2 separate regions of the Homo sapiens genome follow, and region 1 is linked to region 2. Evidence: fine-mapped expression QTL. A gene starts in region 2. The other region holds a variant in brackets. All regions are shown on one strand. Distances are between the middles of the regions.

Region 1 (10,709 bases), 70 kb before region 2:
GTTGCCTCCGAAGTCGAGACGACGGTGCTGCTCAGTTATCTTCCGCCTTTCCGCACTATGGTGGGCAGGCGACACTGCTGCGGGGCAGGCTTAAGGTCCTTCTGCGGATCTGTCTGTCAAAGAAAAATTACAGACACAAAATTCAGTGGCGGCCTGGGCTGGGTCGAAGAGCAGCGCCGTCAGAGAAGCTGGTTCCGCGCTACCTTCTTGCTCGCAGGGATGCACTTCAAGGGTCTCAGCACCGGCACTCTTCCATTTGTTCCAGATCCAAGCACGGACTGCAGCGTGGGGCTGGAGTAAGACGACAGTCTGACCACTCCCGAAAGCTTTAGTTTGGGCAGTTCCATGACATAGGCCGGTCCTCGTCTCTTGGGACGGTCCTCCTCTTGCTTTAGGGACTGTTTCTTGAAACAGAACAGAGGCCAGTTGGACATAAAACGCTTTCTGCTTTATGGAAATTAGGAAAAACGAAAGAGGCTCTTTTGTACTGCTTTTGCCTAATACAATTTCTTGACCATAAGATGTGACTGGGACACATCCACCAGGTCCCAGACACCCCAAGGGAGTGGCTGCCCACTAGAGTCCCACGGGGGAGGCCAAACCTTCAGGGGGAACCTGAAGAATGCCGACTGCAAGCTGAGCAGTGCGGGCGGCAAAGGGCTCGCGGGCTGTGGTGCCCACGCCTCCTGCCTCCTGCTCTAGCTCCAAGGTCTCACACCCTGATCTGCCTGTCGCCTGGTTTTGGGTGGCTTGTGAGCTAAGGATGGTTTTACATTTGGGGTTTTTTGTTTGTTTGTTTGTTTTGAGACACGGTGTTTGTTGCTCTGTAGCACAGACTGGAGTGCAGTGGTGCAATCTTGGCTCACTGTAGCCTCAGCTTCCTAGGCTCAGGCGATCCTCCTGCCTCAGCCTCCCAAGTAGCTGGGACCAAAGGCACGCACCACACCCAGCTAATTTTTAAAACAGATGGGGTGGTGGGGCAGTGGTCTTGCCTACGTTGCCCAGGCTGGTCTCAAACTCCTGGCCTCAAGTGATCCTACCCTGGCCTCCCTAAGCACTGGGTTTACAGGTGTGAGCCACCGCACCCACCTGGTTTTTATTTTTAATGACTGAAAAAAAAATGTTTCATGGCATGTGAAAATTATGTGAAATTCAAATTTTAGTGTCCCCAGTTCTACTGGAACGCAGCCCCTATGTGGTTCATGTGTTGCCTCCAGCTCCTTTCACACTGCAGCAAAGCAGGGAGTGTAACGAACACCCCACGGCCACGGGGCCTAAAATATTTCCTATCAGACCCTTAGAGAAAAATATGCCGACCTCGGATGTGACTGAGGGTGGGGACTTGGGTGAATGCCGGCCAGGAGTGACATCAAGGGTTTGAAGCAGACCCTCTGTCCAGGAGGGAGCGGAGGCAGAGCAGGGACAGTAGTGAGGAGGCCATCTGTGGTGACTTAGGCAAGGTGAGGAGGATGTAGGAGGCAAGAAGGCGAAGCCCCTGTGGGATGAAGGAAGGGTCCACGGGGGGCCTGGGCAGTTGACGGAGTTGCCTCCCTCGGAGGGAAGGCCATGGGAAGCCACAGGGAAAAAGCACGTTTGGGGAAAGATCAGGAGAAGGGGTTTCAGCAAGTCTGTCTTTCGGACATTCAAGTGGAGCTGTCAAATCAGGGACCAATGGGACACAGGAGCCTGGCTTTCTGGAGAGCAGCCTGACTGCAGCTCTGGGTTCCCAGCTCCCAAGCGGTCAGGGAGCACTCGGTAAAGGCTGGGAGGAGCGAGTGACGTACGGACGACCGAACAGACGAATGATGGAAGGGCACACTGTCACACTGTTGGGGTGCCAGCCCAGAACTGGGAGACTGGTGTGACCCTGCCAGCAGGTGACACAGGGCTGCACCAGGCTAGGATGCCACACGGTAGGTGGGAAGGTGAAGGCACTGAGGGGCAAAGCTGGCATTTCTCAACCGAAAATGTGCACAACCTCTGCTGATGGGACGAAGTGCTCATCTGGAGCCAGGCAGAGACAGTGACTTGAGACCTGTCACTGGCTGGGTGGGTGACTTGGGCCAGCATTGCATCTTCTTGGCGCCTCCCTCCAGGGCCGTTCTGAGGGGCGATGTCTGCACGGTGCTTTGGCATAGAACCTGGCACCTGCATATGGTCATCAGGACAGACACAAAAGTTCATGCAAACATCCCCTCTCTGGGCCTGCTCACATGGGATATTCGTCATCAATTCTTAGCTACTGGGGCAGAAAGGGCTTGAGCAAATAGAACTGGGGTCCCTGATGTCCCAACACATGGAGCCATCAACTCGCATGCTGTTCAGGCCTCGACTGACAATGTGGTCTGCCACAGCCTCCACAGGTGGCGTCCTCCTGAGAGAGACACAGGCCACCCGAGGGCATCCAGTCCCGGCTGAGCTAGGCAGTCTCCGGCTCCGATTTCGCTTAGTACCTGCTTTCTGCCCTCCTTGGAAATCTGGCAGCTGTTACTGAGTGGTTCCGGTGCCACAGGGTGCTCCGGAAAGCCAGCTTTTCTGTGGCTGCCCAGAGCCCGCTTCTCTGTTTTCCTACGGGGAAGGAGAAGAGAATGGAGCAGCTCCACTGAGAGCCCGCAGAGCACACGGCCTACTGGCTTCTTTGTCTCCAATTTGTCTACTGTGTGAGTTGTCACTAGCTCTTCTTTTCTGCCTGAGCTGTAATCAGGAGCCTTTTTTTTTCTTTTCTGTCTCAGCCTGACAGTCTCTGGGCCAGGAACAGAGCTGGCTCCATGAATCAGAAGCGCTGCCTACCCAGGGACTCGCAGTTTCAGATCAAACTGTCACCTCCACAGTTAGGCAAACAGGAGTGTCCAGAGGTCCGGAATTAGGTGACCTCAGGGCAGACAGGTCTTAGATTCACATTCAGCAGGTACTTCCAGCGCCAGGTGACATCCACAGTGCTCTACCATCTCAGAATGCATCCTGTTCACACCATTTACAAGGGCCGCACACCAGGCTCTTCTAGAAGGATTACTACCTGTAGCCTTGGCATCAACCGCAAAGTGGACAGCCAGCCCCTCTTTCTCCTGCCGTGGAGCTGCTAACATCCTCATTTTGGGGAGGATACACCAGAAGGCAGCACGGTGTGGGCCCCAAGAGGCCCTGACCACTCTTCAGGATAGAGAGCGCGATTCCCAAGAACCAGGGACCCTCCAGGGGGCAGTACCTTGCCCCACCATGTGCCCATGGGTCTCATTTGCCAGGTCCTGCATCTGCCCCACCGAACCCACGAGAGTGCCTACCTCTGTTCTTGGAAGTAGGGGTGCTGCAGGGCCTGGTGGGCGGCGATTCTCTCATCGGGATCATAGGCCACCATTGCGTGCAGGAGGGAGAGGCATTGTGGGGACAAATTGGTTGTTAGTAGAGGTATTCCTGATCCCTTTTTAAAAGGAAAATCAAAATTCATAGCTCTCGACCTGTATTAAAAACCCAATGATAATAAATGGTCATGCTGTCACTGAGCGCACCGGTGGTCCACTGTCACAACTAAGGGCCCTGTGTGGTGGGGAATGGTTTATGACTGCAGAGTCTACACCTGTCCCAGCCCACAGAACGTGCACCACCAAGAGGGACCCCTGATGTAAATGATGGGCTCTGTGTAGTAATGAGATATCCACGGTTCATCGACCATAATAAACACACCACTCGAGGCAGGTGCTGACGACAGGGGAGGCTGTGTGCACATGGGGACAGGGCTCTATGGAAACCTAAAACTGCTCTTAAAAAAATCTATTTAAAAATAGTCTATTATAAAGGGGGGGATCTGTTATGCTAAAAATGTAAGAAAACTACCTTTCCTATAAAAGATTAATATCACCTTCCCACATGAGAAGAATGAAATAAAATTTAACAAAAAAAGAAGAGTCCAAAATGGTTGCCACCTTCTCCCTCCCTGGGATGTGGGGGCCGCTGGGTGCTACTTGCCCCTCAGCCCACAGGCCCTCCCTGGGAAGTCCCAACTCCCAGCCTCAGCTTCACCAGAATGACCCTAAGAGTCCGGGAACACCTCTTCCAGGCGTCGGTCCCGCCAGCAGGGCTGTGGAGGGCTGCAGAAAGCCCTCACCACCTATGCTCTGTGCTTGGGGAACGTTTCCACCCAAAGGCTTCTAAGTCCTGTTTAAATTACTCAGGGAACACAGCCTGACTCCCCAGCCCTCAGAAAGCCTGTGACAAATCTTTCTGTGATGCTCAAGGAAGAGCTCACCTTTGAGACCACTTAAAGTGATGGGCTCTGTCTGAGCAGCCACTCACTGGCCCTCAAGTGAACTTGAACCCCTGTAGTCAGCCAAAGGAGCTCCTGAGAGGGGTTTGAGGGAGGCACAGGGAGGGGCTTGCCCTGCTGCAGGTCCTAGCAGGGGAGTGGGTCCACATCCACTCTCAGAACACAATACTTACTGTTTGAACTTGGTGAGGATCTTCTGAGCGGGTGTGCCGATGACATCGTGGATTTTTGAGATTTGGTCCAGTTCATTTACTCCAGGAAAGAGGGGCTGCAGACTGGAAGGGCAGAAGGGGCACTGTGGTCAGTGTTAGGGCAGAGCCAACAGACCTCACCAATTACAAACCATCTGGACCGCACAAGGGGAGATCGTGGGAAGCATAAACAAACTTTACCTACACCCTTCTGTAAGTTCCTGCTGTTCATCTAGCTGCTACCGTAAACATCACAAGGTGATATGTGGCAAAATTAACCAGCAAACAACCCCGGGATGTGACCATACCGAAGAACTCCCTCAAACTCCCTTCCCCAATATAAACCCCTCAATCTGTAAGCTTGGGGCTGCTTCCTCTGACTGTTAAGCGGCCGGTGGCAGGTTAATAAAAACTTGCTTGCCTGACTTTAGGTCAATTTTTCCTTTCTCTCGGATGACCTAACATTCTGGTGCCGAAACCCGGGAAGGGGGATAGACTCTGGCCAGGACTCGCTCACTATCAATCTCTCTCTCTCTCTCTTTTTCTCTCTCTCTCCCTCCCTCCCCTATCACCCCTCTCCTGGCCAATCTCCCCTTCCCCGAACCTGCCAAAGACCCAGACAATCTCCTAGACTCTCCCATTGCTGGTGACTTCATCCACCATCAAAGCCTCCGCCAGGGTGAGTAAAAAGAGACTGTTGCCATTCCCTGAACTCTTGACCGTCCATCTCCCATTTCCGAAAGACCCAGCGCTGGGCCAAGGGCTTCCTCCAGCCTCCAGGCCTCTGGTTCCTCCGTTTCAGGGACGCCTGACACGGTGGTTACCTCCTCTATTCCTGACAAGTTCCGCGGGAAAGGGGACGTCACCGGCAGTCTCTTCTTCCTCTACCCCCCTCCCTTCCATTCACTATGGGAGCCTCTCAGTCTATTCCTCCTAAAACTACCC[C/G]CCTTGGGTGCCTCCTACACAATCTGTATACTCTTGGCCTCCGTTCAGAAATCTGCCCTAAAAGGCTTATCTTTTACTGTAACACCACATGGCCTCAATACAAATCAGACCATGGCTCCCAATGGCCTGAAAATGGCACTTTCGATTCCGACATGCTCAGAGACTTAGACAACTTTTGCCACCGCAGTGGGAAGTGGTCTGAGATTCCTCATGTTCAGGCTTTCTTTACTCTCTGTAGTCGTCCCTCCCTCTGCCAGTCCTGCTGTACTTTTCAAATTCTCCTCGCCTGCTCCAAACCCGACTCACCTCCTGCTCCCCTCATCCCAATAGCCCCAGCGGACGACTTCTCCTTCTTTGATCCCACCGATTTCTCCCCTCCTCGACAACATCCTAATCCTCCACCGGAACAGCATGACCCCCCACCGTATGCCTCCGCTCCGGCTCTACCTCTCTCTCCCCTTCTCTCCAACCACCCCACCTCCGACTCTGAGTCCTCCCCATCTCCACCCCTTACTCGTTCTCGAGCCCAACACGCCCAGCAGCCTGCTCCCTTGCTTCTTCTCCGGGAAGTGGCATGGGCCGAAGGGATGGTCCGTGTCCACGTCCCATTTTCCCTCTCTAATGTTTCCCAAATTGAGAAACGTCCAGGTTCTTCTCCGATCCCGACACTTACATCAAATAATTTAAATATCTCACCCAGTCTTATGAACTTACTTGGCATGATCTCTATATTATTTTGTCTTCTACCCTCCTTCCGGAAGAAAAGGAAAGAGTGTGGCTTGCAGCCCAGGCCCATGCCGATGACCTCCATCGGCAAGATCCTACTAGGCCAGTAGGGGCCGCTGCAGTTCCCTGAGAAGAGCGTACCTGGGCGTATCAACCCACAGGCCCCTGCCAGACCTCCTGTAATCATATGATTACTTGCCTCACTGCAGGCCTTAACAAAACTGCCCATAAGGCTGTAAATTTCGAAAAACTCAAAGGAATCTCCCAAAAGGCCAATGAAAACCCTGCCCAATTCCTTTCTCGCCTTACAGAGACTCTCCAAAAATACACGCGTGTCGATCCCGCCTCCCGGGAAGGAACTATTGTTCTTTACATCCATTTTATTTCCCAATCTGCCCCCGACATCTGGCGCAAACTTAAAAAGGCTGAAGATGCCCCTCAGACCCCACAACGAGACCTCCTTAACTTGGCTTTCAAAGTCTTTAATAACAGGGATGAGCAAAATAAATTAGATAAAGCCCAAAGAGATCGTGCTAAATACCAGCTTCTAGCAGCGGCTGTCCATCAACCCAGCCGTATCACCCAAGGGCACAAAAGACCCGATAGCAGCAACCCTCCGGGCCTTGTTTTAAGTGTGGCAAAGAAGGCCACTGGGCATGGGTGTATCCTAACCCTTGAGTGCCAAAGAGTCCTTGTCCAGTGTGCCAGCAGACAGGCCACTGGAAGTCCGACTGTCCTCTCAACAGACAGACAAGCCTGCTCCTCAGAGCCACCACCCCTTTAACAAGACAAAAAGTGAAGAACCGCTTGCATTCCCGCAGCTCCTCAGCCTAGCCGCTGAGGACTGACCGGGCCCAGGGCCCCCGGCCCCATCTGCCATCACTGCATTGGAGCCCAGGGTAACTCTGCGAGTAGCAGGTAAGCCGATCTCTTTTTAAATTGATAGCGGGGCCACCTACTCAGCTTTGCCTGAATTTTCAGGACCCACTCATCCCTCTCAGGTCTCAGTTGTGGGGGCTGATGGACTCATCTTGCGTCCACGCGCCACCAGACCCCTTACTTGCTCTCTGTTTGATACTGTTTTCCCACACTCTTTCCTTATCATGCCTCGTTGCCCTACCCCCATCCTAGGCCAAATTCAAAGCCAAATTCAAATTCAAATTTTGGCCAAATTCAAAGCTTCTATCACCTTTTTCTCCCTCCCTCAACCGGAGTCCCTCCTACTCCTCTATGCGAGTCCAGCCCCTGACCCCTCTCCCCAGTACCCACTTCCCACCTCTTTTGTAAACCCAACAGGGTGGGACACCACCACCCCTTCCCTAGCTACTCACCACGACCCCATCAAAATCCAGTTAAAAGACCTCTCTAAATTTCCCAGCATCCCCAAAAACCCTATCTCCCTAACCCACCAAAAAGGCTTACAGCCCATCACAAACAAGCTCTGTTCACGCCGTCTTCTTAGGCCAACACGTTCTTCATATAACACCACCATCCTCCTGGTTAAAAAATCAGACGGCTCATACCGACTCCTGCAAGACCTCCGAGCCATCAGTCAGGCTGTCTTTCCTATTCATCCCATAGTCCCTAACCCCTCTACACTTCTCTGTCTCATTCCCTCCAACACCACCTGCTACACTGCTATTGACCTAAAAGATGACTTTTTTTACTATTCCCCTGCACCCTGATTCCCAAAACCTCTTTGCTTTCACCTGGACCGACCTTGACACCCTCCAGTCACAACAACTAACCTGGACTGTCCTCCCTCAAGGCTTCAGAGATAACCCTCACTTCTTTGGACAAGCTTTAGCTCAAGATCTCACTTCCTTAAACCTTTTCCCTAGCCGTCTCCTTCAATACGTGGACAATCTTCTCCTTTGCAGCCCCTCTCTAGAAGACTCTCAAACTCACACAGTTACTCTCTTAAAACTTTCTCTCCATCAAAGGGTATAGAGTCTCCCCCTCCGAAGCTCAACTTTCCACCTCCATAGTAACTTACCTAGGAGTTCAACTTTCCCCTGGGACCCGGGCTATGACCCCTGCCCTAGCAGCACTAATAGATAATCTGCCCTCGCCCTCCTCCAAAAGCGAAGTTCTTTCCTTCCTAGAACTAGCAGGCTTTTTTAGAATATGGATTCCCAACTTTGCCCTCCTAGCTCACCCACTCTATGAAGCAGCCAAAGGCCCTCTCAGTGAGCCTCTAAATCCCTCACGTAACATACTCCCCAACTTCTGCAAACTTCAAACCGCTCTTGTCACTGCACCAGCTCTGTCCTTACCTGGTATCTCCCAACCTCTCACACTCTATACTGCCAAAAGATGAGGAATAGCCCTCGGTGTCTTAGGGCAACAGAAAGGAGACCCTCCTTCCTTTGCCCCTGTAGCCTACCTCTCTAAACAGTTAGACAACACAGTCAGAGGATGGCCAACCTGTCTTAGAATGCTAGCAGCAGCGGCCACTTTAGCTGTAAGCAGGAAACTAACATTGAGTCAAAATACCACCACCTACAGTCCTCATAATCTACAGGATCTCCTCTCCTCCCGAGCATGAGGCTCCCTCCTTTCCGGATTCAATTACTCCATGCCCTCTATCAAAAATCCTGAATTCGGTCTTGCCAAAAGTGCTCCCTTCAACCCAGCATCCTTACTCCCTGTATCTTCTTCCCTTCCTACTCATTCTTGCACTGACGTCCTAGATCACCTGCAGCCACACTTTCCTAACATTTCCTCCGAGCCTCTCACCAACCCCGATGACCAGCTATTTATAGATGGCCCCCCTTCTGGGCCCACTGGCTCCCCCAAAATTGCTGGGTATGCAGTTGTTTCCCTTGACCGAGTAATTGAAGCTAAGCCCCTACCTCCAGGAACCTCCTCTCAAAAAGCAGAATTCATAGCTCTCACCAGAGCCCTAACCCTTTCCAAAGGCAAACGAGTCAACACTTACACAGACTCCAAAGATGTATATCACATTCTTCATTCCCACGCCACCATCTGGCAAGAGAGGAGATTCCTTACTGCCAAAGTGACCCTATCACTAACCACCCCCTTATTTACCAACTCCTTCAAGCCGCACATCTCCCAACTGAGGCAGGAGTTATACACTGTTGGGGACATCACACAGGAACAGATAAAATCTCAAGAGGCAACAGAAAGACCAATGGGGCAGCAAAAGAAGCCTCCCTTTCTTCCGCTCCTGCCTCCCTCCTCCTCATTACCCCTGCAGTCCAACCTCAGTACCCCCCACTGAAAAAGCCTCATTACTATAACAAGGAGCCTTCCTCCAGGGGGACTGGATAGATAAGGACCAGAAGCTAGACCTTCCCCAGGGCCAAACCGACAAAATCCTGACATCTCTCCACCAATCCTTCCATATTGGTGCATGTCCCCTATATCTCCTCCTCCGCCCATATTTCTTCTCCCCTCACCTATTTACCTCACTAAAAAGTATAACTTCAAAATGTCATATATGCTCTGTCACCTCCTCTCAAGGAGCCCTCCATTCCCCATCTATTCCTACACACCAGCTAAGAGGAACACTCCCAGGGGAAGACTGGCAAATAGACTTCACCCACATGCCTCCCGTCAAAAACACAAGACTACTTCTCACTCTTATAGACATCTTCTCTGGGTGGGTGGAGGCATTTCCTACCTCTTCAGAAAAAGCTGCAGTAGTCTCCCAGATCCCCACAAGAGAAATCATCCCTAGCTTTGGTCTCCCTCGCTCCAATCAATCAGACAATGGCCCTGGCTTCATTTCCCAAATCACCCAACAGCTCTCCCAGTCCCTCAGCATCCAGTGGCACCTCCATATCCCATATCGACCCCAATCATCAGGAAAAGTCGAAAGGGCAAATGGAAACCTTAACACTCAGTTGATCAAACTCACTCTAGAAGTCCAGAGGCCCTGGACTTCCCTCCTACCCATAGCTCTAGCCAGCGTCAGAGCCAGCCCAAAGGCACCCTCCTTCCTCAGCCCATTTGAATTAATGTATGGATGCCCTTTCCTCTTACAAAACAGGCCTCCTTCTGAGACCCTTTCCTCTTACAAAACAGGCCTCCTTCTGATTCTCAATTAGGAGAGTACCTCCCAGCACTCTCCCTCATCCGCCATCTCCTCTGCAAACAGGCACACCAGGCCCTCCCAATACCACATAAAGGCCTCACTGACCAGACCCTCCTACCAGGAGAACATGTTTTTCTAAAAACCCTTAACCCGGCTGGGCACAGTGGCTCACGCCTGTAATCCCAGTACAGTGGGAGGCCAAGCCTGGTGAATCACAAGGTCAAGAGATTGAGACCATCCTGGCCAACATGGTGAAACCCCTTCTCTACTAAAAATACAAAAATTAGCCGGGCATGGTGGCAGGCACCTGTAGTCCCAGCTACTCGGGAGGCTGAGGCAGGAGAATCACTTGAACCTGGGAGGCAAAGGTTGCAGTGAGCTGAGATTGTGCCCTGCACTCCAGCCTGGCGACAGGGCAGGACTCTGTCTCAAAACAAAAAACAAAAATCAAACAAAAAAAAACCCTTAACCCAACCAGCCTTAAACCAAAATGGGAAGGCCCTTTCCAGGTCATCCTTACTGTCAG
Region 2 (16,639 bases):
GCTACCTGGAAGGCTGAGGCAGGAGAATCGCTTGAACCCAGAAGGTGGAGAGTACAGTGAGCCAAAATCACGCCACTGCACTCCAGCCTGGGCAACAGACTGAGAGTACGTCTCAAAAAAAAAAAAAAAAAATAGCAAGATCTATTACAAAAAAAAAACTATGTTCAAGCATCTTCATAGATGCATCATCCTACAAGCTACAATACAACATATTTAATGTAATCCCATTTGATTTTGGGTAAGGAACAACCATATATTTATATGTATATACACACACACCAATATATAAAACTTGTGTGTATATACACAAAAATATGCATAGAAAATGTATGAATGTCCATCTAAGACAATGTTAACCAGGATTTACTGTGGCAAATAGGGGAAGGTCCTGAGGCTAACTCAAAACCTTCTATGGTTTGGATTTATCACAAAGCCAGTATTAAGTTTACCTCATTTTGTTTTTATTTCAAGAGAAACAGTTGCTAGATAATGCATCTACTTATAAAAACAGAAAGTGGCCAGGCACAGCTGTAATTCCAACATATTGGGAGGCCGAGACAGGAGGACCACCAGATCCCAGGATTTTGAGACCAGTCTAGGCAACATGGTGAGACCCTCATCTCTAAAAAAATAATAATAATAAATAAGTAAAATAAAATGGCTCACACCTGTAATCCCAGCACTTTGGGAGGCTGAGGCAGGTGGATCACAAGGTCAGGAGATCGAGACAAGCCTGGCCAATATGGTGAAACCCTGTCTCTACTAAAAATACAAAAATTACCCAGGCGTGGTGGCAGACACTTGTAGTCCCATCTACTTGGGAGGCTGAGGTGGGAGAATACCTTGAACCCAGGAGGCAGAGGTTGCAGTGAGCTGAAATCACACCACTGCACTCCAGCCTGGGCAACACAGCGAGACTCTGTCTCAAAAAATAATAATAAATAGGCTGGGCACGGTGACTCACGCCTGTAATACCAGCACTTTGGGAGGCCAAGGTGGGCAGATCACGAGGTCAGGAGATCAAGACCATCCTGGCTAACACGGTGAAACCCCATCTCTACTAAAAGTATAAAAAAATTAGCAGGGTGTGGTGGCGGGCGCCTGTAGTCCCAGCTACTCTGGAGGCTGAGGCAGGAGAATGGCATGAACCCAGGAGGCGGAGCTCACAGTGAGCCAAGATTACGTCACTGCACTCCAGCCTGGTCCACACTGCAAGACTCCGTCTCAAAAATAATAATAACAATAACAAATAAATAAACAAATAAAATAAAAACAAAAATTGATGCTCACAGAAGGAGATGAAAAGGATTATTTGAGGTACCTTTTTTGATTCCATGAAAATACTAGTGAGAGGTGATAGCGTGCTGGCAGCCCTTGAAGCCCTCGCTGGCTCTCGGCACCTCCTCGGCCTCGGTGCCCACTCTGGCCACGCTTGAGGAGCCCTTCAGCTCGCCGCTGCACTGTGGGAGCCCCTCCCTGGGCTGGCCGGGGCCAGAGCCGGCTCCCTCAGCTTGCGGGGAGGTGTGGAGGAAGAGGCACCGCGAGGTGTGGAGGGAGAGGTGCAGGCGGGAACCGGGGCTGCACGTGGTGCTTGCGGGCCAGCATGAGTTCTGGGTGGGTGTGGGCTCAGCGGGCCCCGCACTAGGTGCGGCCAGCTGGTGCTGCTGGCCCCGGGCAGTGACGGGTTTAGCACCCGGGCCAGCAGCTGCTGAGGGTGCACCGGATACCCTGCAGTGCCGGCCCACCGGCCCTGCCTGTGCTCAAATTCTTTCTGGGCCTCAGCTGCTACCCACGAGGCAGGGCTTCAGACCTGCATCCCGCCATGCCTGAGCCTCCCAACCCCCGCTGTGGGCTCCTGCGCAGCCCAAGCCTCCCCGAGGAGCACCGCCCCCTGCTCCAGGGTGCCCAGTCCCATCAACTGCCCAAGGGCTGAGGGGTGCAGGCACATGGTGTGGGACTGGCGGGCAGCTCCACCTGCAGCCCTGGTGTGGGATCCACTAGGTGAAGCCAGCTGGGCTCCTGAGTCTAGTGGGGACTTAGAGAACCTTTATGTCTAACTAAGGGATTGTAAATACACCAATCAGCACTCTGTGTCTAGCTCAAGGTTTGTAAATGCACCAATCAGCACTCTGTATCTAGCTAATCTGGTGGGGACTTGCAGAACCTTTATGTCTAGCTAAGGGATTGTAAATACACCAATCAGTACTCTGTGTCTAGCTCAAAGTTTGTAAACACACCAATCAGCACCCTGTATCTAGCTCACGGTTTGTAAATACACCAATCAGCACTCTGTATCTAGCTCAAAGTTTGTAAACACACCAATCAGCACCCTGTATCTAGCTCAAGGTTTGCAAATGCACCAATCAGTGCTCTGTGTCTAGCTGATCTCACGGGGACTTGGAGAACTTTTGTGTCTAGCTCAGGGATTGTAAACGCACCAATCAGCACCCTGTCAAAACGGACCAATCAGCTCTCTGTAAAACAGACCAATTGGCTCTCTGTAAAATGGACCAATCAGCAGGATGTGGGTGGTGCCAGATAAGAGAATAAAAGCAGGCTGCCCAAGCCAGCAGTGGCAACATGCTCCAGTCCCCTTCCACAATGTGGAAGCTTTGTTCTTTCACCCTTTAAAATAAATCTTGCTGCTACTCACTCTTTGGGTCCAGGCTGCTTTTATGAGCTGCAACACTCACTGCAAAGGTCTGTAGCTTCTCTCCTGAGGCCAGCAAGACCACGAACCCACCAGGAGGAATGAACAAGTCCAGATGCGCCGCCTTCAGAGCGATAACACTCACCGCGAAGGTCTGCAGCTTCACTCCTGAAGCCAGTGAGACCACGAACCCACCAGAAGGAAGAAACTCTCAACACATCTGAACTTCAGAAGGAACAAACTCCAGACACACTGCTTTTAAGAACTGTAACACTCACCGTGAGGGTCTGAGGTTTAGTTCTTGAAGTCAGTGAGACCAAGAACCCACCAACTGCGGACACACCAGCATTTAAGAAAGACAAATTACTTGACTCTTTCCATGGCGGAAAAAAAAAAAGACAGTTTAAACCTCATTGTAATTACAACAGATACTTTTAAAAATTCTCTCTGGGCCGGACGCAGTGGCTCACGCCTGTAATCCCAGCACTTTGGGAGGCCGAGGCGGGCAGATCACCTGAGGTCAGGAGTTCGAGACCAACCTGGCCAACATGGTGAAACCCCATCTTTACTAAAACTACAAAAATTAACCAGGTGTGGTGGTTTGCACCTATAAATCCCAGCTACTCGGGAGGCTGATGCATGAGAATTGCTTGAACCCTGGAGGCAGAGGTTGCAGCGAGCCAAGATCATACCACTGCACTCCAGCCTGGGCAACAGAGTGAGACTACCTACAAAAAAAAAAAGAAAAATTCTCTCTGATACAATAGCAAACTGTTACCGTCTTCAGAGTGTAACTTCTCTGGGTTTTTGTTTTATTTTTTTGAAACAGGGTCTTCCTTTGACATCCAGGCTGGAGAGCAGTGGTGTGATCCCAGCTCACTACAGCCTCAAACTCCTGGGTTCAAGCAATGCTCCTCCCTCAGCCTCCCGAGTACCTGAGACCACAGGCATGCACTGCCATGCTTGGCCAATTTTTAAATTTAGTAGAGACAGAGTCTCGTCATGTTGCCCAGGCTGGTCTCAGACTCCTGGATTTAAGCAATCTCTTGCCTCAGCCTCTCGAAGTGCTGGGTTTACAGACATGAGCCACCATGCCTGGCCACTTTTCTCTTTTTATAGGTATGTTTTGAATAATTCATTAAAAAGTTGAGACAGGACCAGGCACAGTGGCTCATGCCTATAATCCAGGAGTTCAAGACCGGCCTGGGCAATATAGGGAGACCCCCATCTCTAGTAAACAATTAAAAACTTAAGCCGGGGAGCCGGGCACAGTGGCTCATGCATATAATCCCAGCACTTTGGGAGGCCAAGGCGGGCAGATTGCCTGAGGTCAGGAGTTCGAGACCAGCCTGGCCAGCATGGTGAAACCCGATCTCTACTAAAAATACAAAACTTAGCCAGGTATGTTGGCAGGCACCTGTAATCCCAGCTATTTGGGAAGCTGAGGCAGAAGAATCACTTGAACCCGGGAGGTGGAGGTTGCAGTGAGCCGAGATCGCGCCATTGGACTCCAGCCTAGGCAACAGGGCAAAACTCTATCTCAAAAAAAAAAAAAAAAAAAAAAAGCCTGGGCTGGGCAACACAGCAAAACCCCATCTCCACCAAAAAAAAAAAAAAATTAGCTGGGCGAGGAGGCACATGCCTGTGGTCCTAACTACTCAGGAGGCTGAGGTGGGAGGATTGCCTGAGCCCAGGAGATGGAGGCTGTCGTGAGCTGTGGCTACACCACAGCACTCCAGCCTGGGCAACAGACTCTATCTCAAACAAAAAAGAAAGTTCAGACAGGAAAAAAGAGTGGTACTTTAACTAGACTAGATAAGGGGAAACTTTTCCAAGTCAGGATCTGACTGATGTTTTCATTCTTTCCCTTTTTATATCCCTGCCTTCCATCTGCTGAAATAGCAAATAATAATTCATTCACAATTTATCATGTATCAGACACTGTGCTATGAGCTTTATATAGATGATTTCACTTAATCTTTGAAACAATGCTATGTGATTGGTATTATCATCCCTGTTTAAAGATGAATGTGGGCTGGGCACACTGGCTCACACCTGTAATCTCAGCATTTTGGAAGGCCAAGGCAGGTGGATCACCTGAGGTCAGGAGTTCTTGACCAGCCTGAACAACATGGTGAAACCCCGTCTCTACTCAAAATATAAAAATTAGCCAGGTGTGGTGGTGCGCCTAAAATCCCAGCTACTCAGGAGGCTGAGACAGGAGAATCGCTTGAACCCAGGAGGCAGAGGTTGCAGTGAGCCAAGATTGTGCCACTGTACTCATTCCAGCCTGGCCAACAGAGTGAGACTCCATCTCAAAATAAAAAACAAACTTTTAAGATGACTTCAGCTCCAGCCACCATCTGAGTGCATGAGAGACTTCCAGTAAGACCTGCCTAGTTGAATCCAGGCAACCTGAAGAACCACAAGAAGGACTGTTGTTCCTTTAAGCCACAAAATTGAAGTGATCTGTTACGCAGCAATAGATAACCGGAACAATGAAGAAAAGCAGTATAAGAAAAAGTAACATGCCTGAAGCTGCCATGCCCACCCGGTTCCAAAGCCCACGCTCTTATCAACTGCACTGTGTCACTCTTTGCTCTCTACTGTTGCAAACGATGCCAAATAAAAAGAAGGACAGGAATACTCCACAGAATAACACACCCCTAAACACAGGGCATCACCTAGAAAACAAGTACAAAAATATACCTAGAAAATCCTGACAGACCCCTGTAATAATCTAGCATTCCCAGCCCCACTCTGACCCCAAGCTATGGATCCAATTTCACCATTACTCACTTTTCCTGATCATTCTACTTCTATAACTCTGTCTCTGTGATTTCCAGTTCTGGAATATTCTCTCCATTGTTAACTATTTTTAAATCATTTATTTAATGATCAGGATGTAAACCAGGGGGATAAAAGGTTACAATAATTCTTAGAGTACATTTTAAGGTAGAAGGAAGAAAGGGAGAATAAAGATGTCACCACTAAACCAAGTAACCGAAAACTACCAAAATGACCATCTAAAAGAACATACCAAACAATACTAAATATACTTTAAAAACAAAAGTTTACAAGAAGTAAATCATAAATGTACATTTTTTGTGTATTTTGTTTTGTTTTGATTTTTTTTTTCTTGTATTTTTTGGTTGAGATGGGGTTTCACCACATTGGCCAGGCTGGTCTCGAACTCCTGACCTCAAGTGATCAGCCAACCTCGGCGTCCCGAAGTGCTGGGATTACAGGCGTGAGCCACTGCACCCGCCCCATAAATGTAAATTTTATATGTATACACACATATACTTTTTTTTTTTTTTTTGCTCTGTTGCCCAGGCTGGAGTGCAGTAGTGCGATCTCAGCTCACTGCAACGCCCCCCTCCCAGGTTCAAGCGATTCCCCTGCCTCAGCCTCCCAAGTAGCTGGGATTACAGGCACCTGCCACCACGCCTGACTAATTTTTGTATTTTTAGTAGAGACGGGGTTTCACCATGTTGACCAGGCTGGTCTCGAACTCCTGACCTCAAGTGATCCACCCACCTCAGCCTCTCAAAGTGCTGGGATTACAGGCGTGAGCCACTGCACCCGGCCCACAAATGTAAATTTTATATATATATACGCATATATACATATTTATTTTCTTTTTTTTTGAGACGGAGTCTCTTGCTTTGTTGCCCAGGCTGCAGTACAGTGGCCCGATCTCAGCTCACTGCAAGCTCTGCCTCCCAGGTCCACGCCATTCTCCTGCCTCAGCCTCCCGAGTAGCTGGGACTACAGGTGCCCACCACCACGCCTGGCTAATTTTTTGTATTTTTAGTAGAGCCGGGGTTTCACCGTGTTAGCTGGGATGGTATTGATCTCCTGAACTCGTGATCTGCCCGCCTCGGCCTCCCAAAGTGTTGGCATTACAGGTGTGAGCCACTGCGCCCAGGCAGCATATGTACATATTTCTATATAGGTATACACATGCAGTGCTAACATTAGTCTTTTAAAAAGGGAGAAATACACATTTATATATTTATATATAATATATATAGAGAGAGTAAATTACTGAAAGTGATGCCTCTAGGTAGTGGGGTATGAAGAGTCTAAGAGGAAGGCCAGGCACAGTGGCTCGCGTCTGTAATTCCAACACTTTGGGAGGCTGAGGCGGGTGGATCGCTTGACGTCAGGAGTTTGAGACCAGCCTGGCCAACATGTTGAAACCCCGTCTCTACCAAAAAATACAAGTTAGCTGGGCGTGGTGGTGCACACCTGTAATCTCAGCTACTTGGGAGGCTGAGGTAGGAGAATCACTTGAACCCGGGAGGCAGAGGTTGCAGTGAGCCAAGATTGCACCACTGCACTCCAGCCAGGGTGACACAGAGAGACCCTGTCCAAAAAAAAAAAGAGTCTAAGAGAAAAAGAAGGTAGATAAATAAACCAAATGATCAAATCTAACTTCAGCAAAACTGCAACGAACTGACATCAGGCACTCTGGAAGGGCCACACTGACAGAGACACAACGTTGCCTCTCACATATTCCTGGTAAAAACATTTAAGCTGAAGCTAATCATGAGGCGAAAATCAGACAAATCCAAATTGAGCGATATTCTGCAAAACACTGGGCTGGATTCTTTAAAAATGTCATTTGGCCTACAGAGGACAGCCAAATAAAAATGAAAATATCATTGTCATGAAAGACACAAAAGGCAGGGACACCATATTAAAAGAGACCAAAGAGATATGACAACAGAATACAATTGGTGATTCTTGATTGGATAGAAAAAATATAAACAACTATAACACATGTTATTGGGATAAATGGAAAAACTGAAATATGGACTGTGTATCAGAGTATTGTATCATTGTTAAATTTTCTAAATGTGTTATTTGTACTGTGATGATGTAGGAGAATGTCCTTGTTCTTGGCAGATAACTGCTGAAAGAAGTGGTGAATTATTAGTAGTCTACAACTAACTCTTGAAAGGTCCAGTGAAAATAAATACATAAATGGGAGAGAGAAAACACCAGAGCGAAAGCGAGCACACAAAAATAAGGCAAAATGGTGCAGCTAAGTGAAGGACGGGTTTATAAATATTCAATGTACTGCTCTTGCAACTTTCCTGTACATCTGAAAATTTTCAAAACAAACAGATGGGAAGAAAAAAATGAATATAGTACAAAATATGTGCAGTATCATAGTCTGCACTGTAAGTAAAAGTGTAAAGTCTTTTGTAGACCTTGGATTCTAACTACAGCTTTGTAGTGCATTAATGAAAAAGGTAAACATTAAACAATATCCAACAAAATAAAATAAAAATAAAAATGCCTTGTAAAGGGTGAATGAGATTAATTATTTTAAATGTTATGCAATGTACACCATTGACAATTAGGATACAATGCAAATTTAACATTATAACTACTCCTAACATAATATTTTCACAGCAAAGGTCTGAATTTTTACTGCACCTCTGGTTCACAACCATAAACAATTATATCTGTACAGTAATAATAATTTTAAAAACATCATTCTAGCTGGTTGCACTTGGATTGTCAATAATCCACAAATCCCACTAAAGAAAATTTTTTACCCGTTACATTTTCTAGAATGACTACCTCATTTCCCAACTTTGAAGTAACAGCTTTTAACTAAAAGGTTGCTTCAAAACTACTATTAAAAAGTGGTTCCTATAAAACACTACTGCTTGACCCAAAAAATAAAATAAAGCACACAGCCCAGCTTTCCTCTCAATTGGTCACTAAACCAGTATCATGAAAAGGCAGGGAGCCACGCTGTAAGCGCTCCCCCGTTTTCTGCCGAATGTTCAGGAAAAGAGTGTCAGGTTCAAGCCAGCATTTAAAATAAAATAAAATGAATCACAGTCAACTCCCTAAACTCCAATGTAAGAACCACGCACCTGCACCAAAATATGCCTGAGCGGGAACTCGAGTCGGCTCTCCGAGACCCCAAAGTTCCCAACCTAGCCCCAACCCCTCAAGCTTCCCCCAGGGGCACCGGCTTCTCACAGCCGAGGGGGATTCGGGGCCCACATGCGGAGCCTCCCGGGCCTGTCGAGCCACGGCAGAAGGCGACGACGCCCGGCCCCACAGGCCCCTCAAGCTCCTCAAGCTCCCCCAGTCCCTCCCTCCCCCGCCACTCGCTCTCCAGTCCCTGCCCCTTTCCCCGGCCCCACTCACTCTTCATCTTGGATGCGGAAGCCGGTGACAACCCCTTGCCGACACTGGACGGAAAAGAAAGAAGCAGGAAGGTTGTCCCCCTGCTTTCCACTTCCCTGAGGCGGGGTCCCGCACTAGGATCTCCGTGGTGGTCCCTCGAAGGAGAGCGTTAGAGATCCCGCCGCCATGTTGTGTCCCTGTCACCCTAGCAACCGTCAGGCCCTGAACGCCATGAGCTGTCGCCTGCGCATGCGCAAGATGCCCCGCCCATGTACGCGTGCGCAGTGCAGCCCGTCCCCTCAGCCCGGTTGCTAAGCAGCCTTTCCTCCGCTTCCATGTAAATACTGTGCAAATCCCCGCCTTTGACACAGGCGACCTTCGCTCGGCTCGCTCTCCCTGCTGGCCTGGGAACTTAGCGATTTGGAACCCACTACGTGGACGATAGCCTTGAGCTTTAATTGGGCTTGGGAGCTTCTACAGGAATTTTTTTTTTTTTTTGAGACAGAGTGTCGCTCTGTTACCCAGGTTGGGGTGCAATGGCGTGATCTCGGCTCACTGCAACCTCCGCCTCCCGGCTTCAAGCGATTCTCCTGCCTCAGCCTCCCAAGTAGCTGGGATTACAGGCACCCACCACTACACCCGGCTAATGTTTTTGTATTTTTAGTAGAGACGGGGTTTCACCATGTTAGGCTGGTCTCGAACTCCTGACCTCAGGTGATCCGCCTGCCTCGGCCTCCCGAAGTGCTGGGATTACAGGCGTGAGCCACCACGCCCGGCCCAGTTTTTCTTTTTAATTCAACAAGCATTTGTTTTTGCCCCAGGAACTGTCGCAGGTATTGGGGATTAAAGGACAGTGTAGACGAGGTGACTGAGTTCTTGAAACTAACATTCTAGTGTAAAGATGAATGAATGTACACCGGAATGAACTATGTGCAGACACGGTGCCTAAGCAACACAGTGGCCTAGTTCTCTGGACCCTGACAAAACAATAAAATAACAAGCATACTATGTATGGGTATAGTATTTTATGAAGCTCATTAGATTAGCCTCATAATTATTCCATGAGATCAAAACCCTGTTTTTTCCTCCATTTTTTTTCTTTTACTAAAATACATCGTTTATTTTTAAAACAGATAAGTAGCCTTGCCAAAACGAAGCCTCAGAAAATTGGTTTAAGACTGAATTGGCCAGGTGTGGTGGCTCACACCTGTAATCCCAGCACTTTGGAAGGCCGAGGCAAGAGGATCGCTTGAGGCCAGAAATTCAAGACCAGCCTGGGCAACATAGAGAAACCCCACTTCCCTCTTAAAAAAAAAAAAAAAAAAACTCCGGGCGTGGTGGCTCACGCCTGTAATCCCAGCACTTTGGGAGGCCAAGGCGGGCAGATCACGAGGTCAGGAAATCGAGACCATCCTGGCTAACACGGTGAAACCCCATCTCTACTAAAAATACAAAAAAAATTAGCCGGGCGTAGTGGCGGGCGCTATAGTTCCAGCTACTCCGGGGGCTGAGGCAGGAGAATGGCGTGAACCCTGGAGGCGGAGCTTGCAGTGAGCCGAGATTGCACCACCTGCACTGCAGCCTGGGCGACAGAGCAAGAGACTCAAAAAAAAAAAAAAAAAAAAAAAAAAGCCGGGCACGGTGGCACATGCCTGTAAACCCAGCTATTCAGGAGAATAAGGCGGAGGTATCTTGAGACCAGGAGTTCTAGGCTCAGTGAGCTATGATAGCACCACTGCACTCTAGCCTGGGTGACAAAGCAAGACCTTGTCTCGAAAGAAAGAGAAAGCGGCCGGTCGCGGTGGCTCACACCTGCAATCCCAGCACGTTGGGCGGCCGAGGCAGGCAGATCACTTGAGTCCAGGAGTTCGAGACCAGCCTGGCCAACATGGGGGAAACCCCGTCTCTACTAAAAAAATACAAAACGGCTGGGCACAGTGGCTGATGCCTGTAATCCCAGCACTTTGGGAGGCCAAGGCGGGTGGATCCCCAGGTCAGGAGTTCAAGACTAGCCTGGCCAAGATGGTGAAACCCCATCTCTACTGAAAATAGAAAAATGAGCCGGGTGTGGTGGCAGGCACCTGTAATCCCAGCTACTCGGGAGGCTGAGGCAGAGAATTGCTTGAACCCGGGAGGCGGAGGTTGCAGTGAGCCGAGATTGCGCCACTGCACTCCAGCCTGGGCGACAGAGTGAGACTCCGTCTAAAAAAGCAAATACATAAATAAAATACAAAACAAGCCAGGCGTGGTGGCTCACACCTATAATCCCAGCACTTTGGGAGGCCGAGGAGGATGGACCAACTGAGGTCAGGAATTCGAGACCAGCTGGCCAACCAACATGGTGAAACCCTGTCACTACTAAAAATACAAAAATTAGCCAGGTGTGGTGATGCGCTCCTGTAATCCCAGCTACTCAGGAGGCTGAGGCGGGAGAATCACTTGAACCCAGGAGGTGGAGGCTACAGTGAGTCGAGATCCTGCCACTACACTCCAGTCTGGGCGACAGAGCAAGACTCCATCTCAAAAAATAATAAATAAATAAATGGTTACAATGGTGAATTTTATGTAAATTTTCTCTCAATAAAAAAGTTGAAAAAATAAATAGCGATTATTGCTGGTGTATTATTGTTGGTGGTGCTATCTTTGTTGGCTTTGAGAAGCCACATCTAATCTCTCCAGACCACTAGGATTTGATCTATCCCTTCTTCTCTTCTTGTGTTCTTTCTTATTTGGGGGCTTGCCCTTATGTCACATTTATATTTCTAACCCTGTCTCTTGCTTGTTAGTTTCTTCTAACCAGGTGGGTTCTAAGTTCCTTGGGCCCCTCATGTGTCTTTTCTCTACCCTGCAGGGCAGAGTGTATTAAATAAGTGAACAGGTGAATGCATTTAGCAAGTGAGAGCCCCATTGTTTCCCAATTCACCAGGTGCTGATGGATTTTCTTCTTCCCTTCATTGTGGACAAGTGGTTCTCAGAAGTGACGTTGTAGAGACCATGTTGGTCCTGATTGGGCAGATGATTTAGAGCAAGGTGCCCCCAGGGGGTAGACACAGTCTATGTGCTTACCTAGGTGAACAGGGGCAGCTGGACTTGCGGCCTCACCTGCCCCTCTGGCTGAGCACCCTTGTTCCAAGTTCATCTTAAGGTTGGGTGAGGGGACGAACTCCAGAATGTTCCATTCGATCAGGGATTTCCGCCCCATTATTTCTAAATCTGTAAGTCTGGAGTGGGGGATAGTTTGCAGCTCTCACAAAATTCCAGGTGATGCTGCACCAGTGGCCATATTTTGAAAACCACTGGCCTAGAGAATTCCTTATTCTTTCTTTAATTCTAAATGAAATAGGAAATGCTGCTTTGAAAAGAAGGAACAATTGCTGAGGAGCTTCTCTTCCTGTGGTAAACACGCTCAAACATCAGCGGAGGGGTCAACCTGTTCAGGCTTCAGCTGGGTGGCCTCAGCACCTGCCTAGCTGGGCCACTCCAGCCCTGAATGGACAGATAAGTAAGAAGTACCAGGCTGTGAACTCCTCCAGAGAGGGTCTTCACCCCAAGCCTCTCACCTGCCCAGCTCACCCAGAGCCAGGAGCCTGCTCAGCACATATTACATGCTCAGGAAACGCTTGTGAAATGGAACCACCACGCATCTCAGAGCTCTGCTTTTTTTTTTTATTAAGTTATTATTTTTAAATTTTTTTTTTTGAGACAGAGTCTTGCTCTGTCACGCAGGCTGGAGTACTGTGGCTTGATCTCGGCTCACTACAACCTCTGCCTCCCAGGTTCAAGCAATTCTCCTGTCTCAGCCTCCCAAGTAGCTGGGACTACAGGCACGTGCCACCACACCTGGCTAATTTTTGTATTTTTAGTAGAGATGGGGTTTCACCATATTGGTCAGGCTGGTCTCGAACTCCTGACCTCAGGTGATTCACCTGCCTCAGCCTCCCAAAGTGCTGGGATTACAGGCGTTAGCCACCGCGCCCAGTTCCAGAGCTCCGCTTTTAAAACTGTATGAACACTACCTAATTATAACCACTTGAGCTTTTTGAATCGTTCTAAAACTCCCTCAGACTGTTCATCCCATATTCTAGCATTAGTTTTTCCCTATTTGCCAATGTCAAGGGATTCAGCCATGTGGCTATGTTTAGCAGACAACCTATTTCCTTCTGCTGAGCATCTGAATTAAGGTTCAAACCAGGAAACAAGTCAGAAAAGCTAGGGATGACAGACATTTCAAACGTGTTAACACTGTTAAAGTGGGTAAAACGCAAATCTACCTAAAGATATTAGAAATTAGATTGATTTTGTAAAATAATAAACACATCTCAGGGAAAACTAAGCTTGAACAAGGATATTAAATAAGGAGGAGCAAAAACATTAGCCACTGAAATTAACATGAAGGATGGTAGTTAACCAAGCACTCTAGAAATTAGATCCTGGTCTAGTGTGGATGCAAAAATAGGTAAAATTCTGTCTACGAAGAAGTCTGTGTAGGTTTCTGAGAAAAAGGAACTCAAAGAAATACATTTAGAATTTTTTAAGTGTAAGAAAAGGTTTCCTGGCCAGGAATAGTGGCTCACACCTGTAATCCCAGCACTTTAGGAGGCCGAGGCAAGCGGATGGCTTGAGCTCAGGGGTTCGAGACCAGCCGAGGCAACATGGTGAAACCCCTTATCTACTAAAAATACAAAAAATTAGCTGGGCTTGGTGGCAGGTGCCTGCAGTCCCAGCTACTCAGAAGCCTAAAGTGGGAGAATCACCTGAGCCTGGGAAATCGAGGCTGCAATAAGCCATGTTTGCACCACTGACCTCCAGCCTGGGCAACAGGAGAGAGCCGTTGTCTCAAAAAATAACAATAATAATACAAAAAATACAAAAATTGGCCAGGCGCGGTGGCTCATGCCTGTAATCCCAGCACTTTGGGAGGCTGAGGCCGGCAGATCACAAGGTCAGGAGTTCAAGACCAGCCTGGCCAAGATGGTGAAACCCTGTCTCTACTAAAACTATAAAAAAATTAGCCAGGCGTGGTGGTGGGCACCTGTAATCCTGGCTACTCTGAGGCAGAGAATTGCTTGAACCCGGGAGGCGGAGGTTGCAGTGAGCCAAGATGGCACCACTGCACTCCAGCCTGGGCAACAGAGGGAGACACCGTCTCAAAAAAAAAAAAAAAAATGCAAAACTTAACTGGGCATGGTGGTGCATGCCTGTAGTCCCAGCTGCTCAGGAGGCTGAGGTGGGAGGACCATTTAAGCCTGGGAGGCAGAGGCTGCAGGAAACCGAGATGGTGACACTGCACTTCAGCCTGGGCGACAGAGCCAGACCCTTCCTTAAAAAAAAAAAAGAAAAGAAAAGAAGAAAAAAAAGGAAAGAAAACAAAAGAAGGCTGGGCGCGGTGGGTCACACCTGTAATCCCAGCACTTTGGGAGGCCAAGGAGGGCGGATCACCCGAGGTCGGGAATGCAACACCAGCCTGACCAACATGGAAAAACCTCGTCTCTACTAAAAATACAAACTTAACCGGGCATGGCGGCACATGCGTGTAATCCCAGCTACTCAGGAGGCTGAGGCAGGAGAATGGCTTGAACCCAGGAGGTGGAAGTTGCAGTGAGCCGAGATTACGCCATTGCACTCCAGCCTAGGCAACAAAAGCGACACTCCGTCTCAAAAAAAAAAAAAAGAAGAAAAAGAAAAAGGCTCACTGGATCGTTCACCTCCCGGGTTCAAGCCATTCTTTGCCTCAGCCTCCGGAGTAGCTGGGATTACAGGCGCCCACCACCACACCCAGCTAATTTTTGTATTTTTAGTAGAGACAGGGGTTTCACTGTGTTGGTCAGGTGGAGTCTTGAACTCCTGACCTTGTGATCTGCCCGCCTCTGCCTCCCAAAGTGCTGGGATTACAGGCATGAGCCACAGCACCTGGCCTTAAAATTCAGCTCTTAAAGTGGTAGGAGAGAGACTCATACTATGTAACTCCTGCCAAGTTGTAGTACTGCTGTTTTCTTGTTTTTGTAAAGCAGGGATAAAAATATCCACTGCAGACTGGGTGCAGTGGCTCACGTCTGTAATCCCAGCACTCTGGGAGGCTGAGGTGGGTGGATTGCCTGAGGTTCAAGAATGGCTTGAACCTGGGAGGTGGAGGTTCCGGTGAGCCTTTTTCTTTCTTTTTTTTTTTTTTTTTGAGACGGAGTTTTTTCAGACGAAGTTCAAGACCAGCCTGGCCAACATGGTGAAACACTGTCTCTACTAAAAATATAAAAATCAGCCGGGCATGCATGGTGGTGGGCGCCTGTAATCCTAGCTACTTGGGAGGCTGAGGCAGGAGAATCATTCAAACCCAGGAGGCGGAGGTTGCAGTGAGCCGAGATCACACCACTGCACTCCAGCCTGGGCAACAGAGCAAGACTTTGTCTCAAAAAAAAAAAAAAAAATACCCACTACAAAAGGTAGTAGAAGGCCGGGCATGGTGGCTCAAGCCTGTAATCCCAGCACTTTTGGAGACCGAGGCTGGTGGATCACCTGAGGTCAGGAGTTCGAGACCAGCCTGGCCAACAAGGTGAAACCCCATCTCCACTAAAAATACACAAAAAAACTAGCTGGGCATGGTGGCACACATTTGTATTCCCAGCTACTTGAGAGGCTGAGGCAAGTGAATCGCTTGAATCCCGGAGGCAGAGATTGCAGTGAGCCAAGATCGTGCTATGGCATTCGAGCCTGGGCAACAAGAGTGAAACTTGGTCACTAAAAAAAAAAAAAAAGGTAAAAGGTAGTAGAAGATTAAATGAGATGTCCACGTGTCCATGATGAATACTCTACAAATGCTCATTGATTTTTACTCAAAGTCTAACACAGGGCCTGGCAGAGCAGGTGCTCAATAAATACTTGTTGGGGCCAGGTACAGGGGCTCACGCCTGCAAACCCAGCACTTTGGGAGGCCAAGGCTGGAGGATCACCTGAGGTCGGGAGTTTGACACCAGCCTGACCAACACGGAGAAACCCCATTTCTACTAAAAATACAAAATTAGCCGGGCGTGGTGGCACATGCCTGTAATTCCAGCTATTCGGGAGGCTGAGGCAGGAGAATCTCTTGAACCCGGGAGGTGGAGGTTGCAGTGAACTGAGATTGTGCCATTGCACTCCAGCCCGGGCAACAGGAGGGAAACTCTGTCTCAATACATACATACATACATACATACATACATACATACATACATACATACTTGTTGGATAATCAAGAAGCAATGCCACCTGCCACTTGTCACCTGCTCTGTCATTCCTTTCTGGCAGGGGCAAGCCCAATTTTAAATGACTATTGAGGATCCAGGACAACCTTTAACTCTTGATAAAATTAAACGGGCTGGTGAGAGAGAATCCTTGCTTACTTGAGTTTATAGAAGCCATGTGGCCTGTTCTTGGAGACCCAGAGAGGAAAAGGGCTTTGTTTGCCAAGGTTCCTCACTTGCTGGTGGCTCCCCTGGGCTTGGATCCTAGTTCGTGGCTTCCAGTTCCCTGTCTTCTACTGCTTATTATTATTATTGCTATTTTTTTTTTGAGATGGAGTCTTGCTCTGTTGCCCAGGATGGAGTGTAGTGGTCCCATCTCGGCTCACTACAACCTCCACCTCCCGGGTTCAAGCGATTCTCCCGCCTCAGCCTCCCAAGTAGCTGGGATTACAGGCACCCGCCATCACGCCCAGCTAATTTTTGTATTTTTGTAGAGACAGGGTTTCACCACATTGGCCAGGCTGGTCTTGAACTCCTGACCAAAGGTGATCTGCCCGCCTCTGCCTCCTAAAGTGCTGAGATTACAGGCGTGAGTCACCACGCCCAGCCTATTATT

Which allele goes with the higher level. Positions count from the first base shown, and alleles are read on the strand shown. Sizes are in standard deviations (SD) of each study's normalised expression.
As copies of G replace C in region 1, the expression in subcutaneous fat of the gene that starts at base 9,033 in region 2 goes down (small effect, 0.27 SD a copy in GTEx).

The links. PIP is the estimated chance that this variant, and not a neighbour inherited with it, causes the effect.
Region 1: its variant is fine-mapped to the expression of MOK in subcutaneous fat (GTEx, PIP 0.91).

What each region holds. Positions count from the first base shown.
Region 1 is chr14:102,229,254-102,239,962 of GRCh38, forward strand. MOK (MOK protein kinase) reads right to left here. Exons shown (of 12, transcript NM_014226.3): 8 at 4,435-4,536; 9 at 3,282-3,455; 10 at 2,454-2,568; 11 at 204-404; 12 at 1-113. The coding sequence ends at 36. Among named protein-coding and RNA genes, the nearest start is that of MOK, 71 kb to the right of the region's middle. RefSeq lists an enhancer at 1,862-2,362. The variant C/G (reference allele first, on the strand shown) is at 5,398.
Region 2 is chr14:102,296,132-102,312,770 of GRCh38, forward strand. MOK (MOK protein kinase) reads right to left here and starts at 9,033. Exons shown (of 12, transcript NM_014226.3): 1 at 8,831-9,033. The coding sequence starts at 8,837. RefSeq lists enhancers at 8,914-9,436, 9,203-9,252.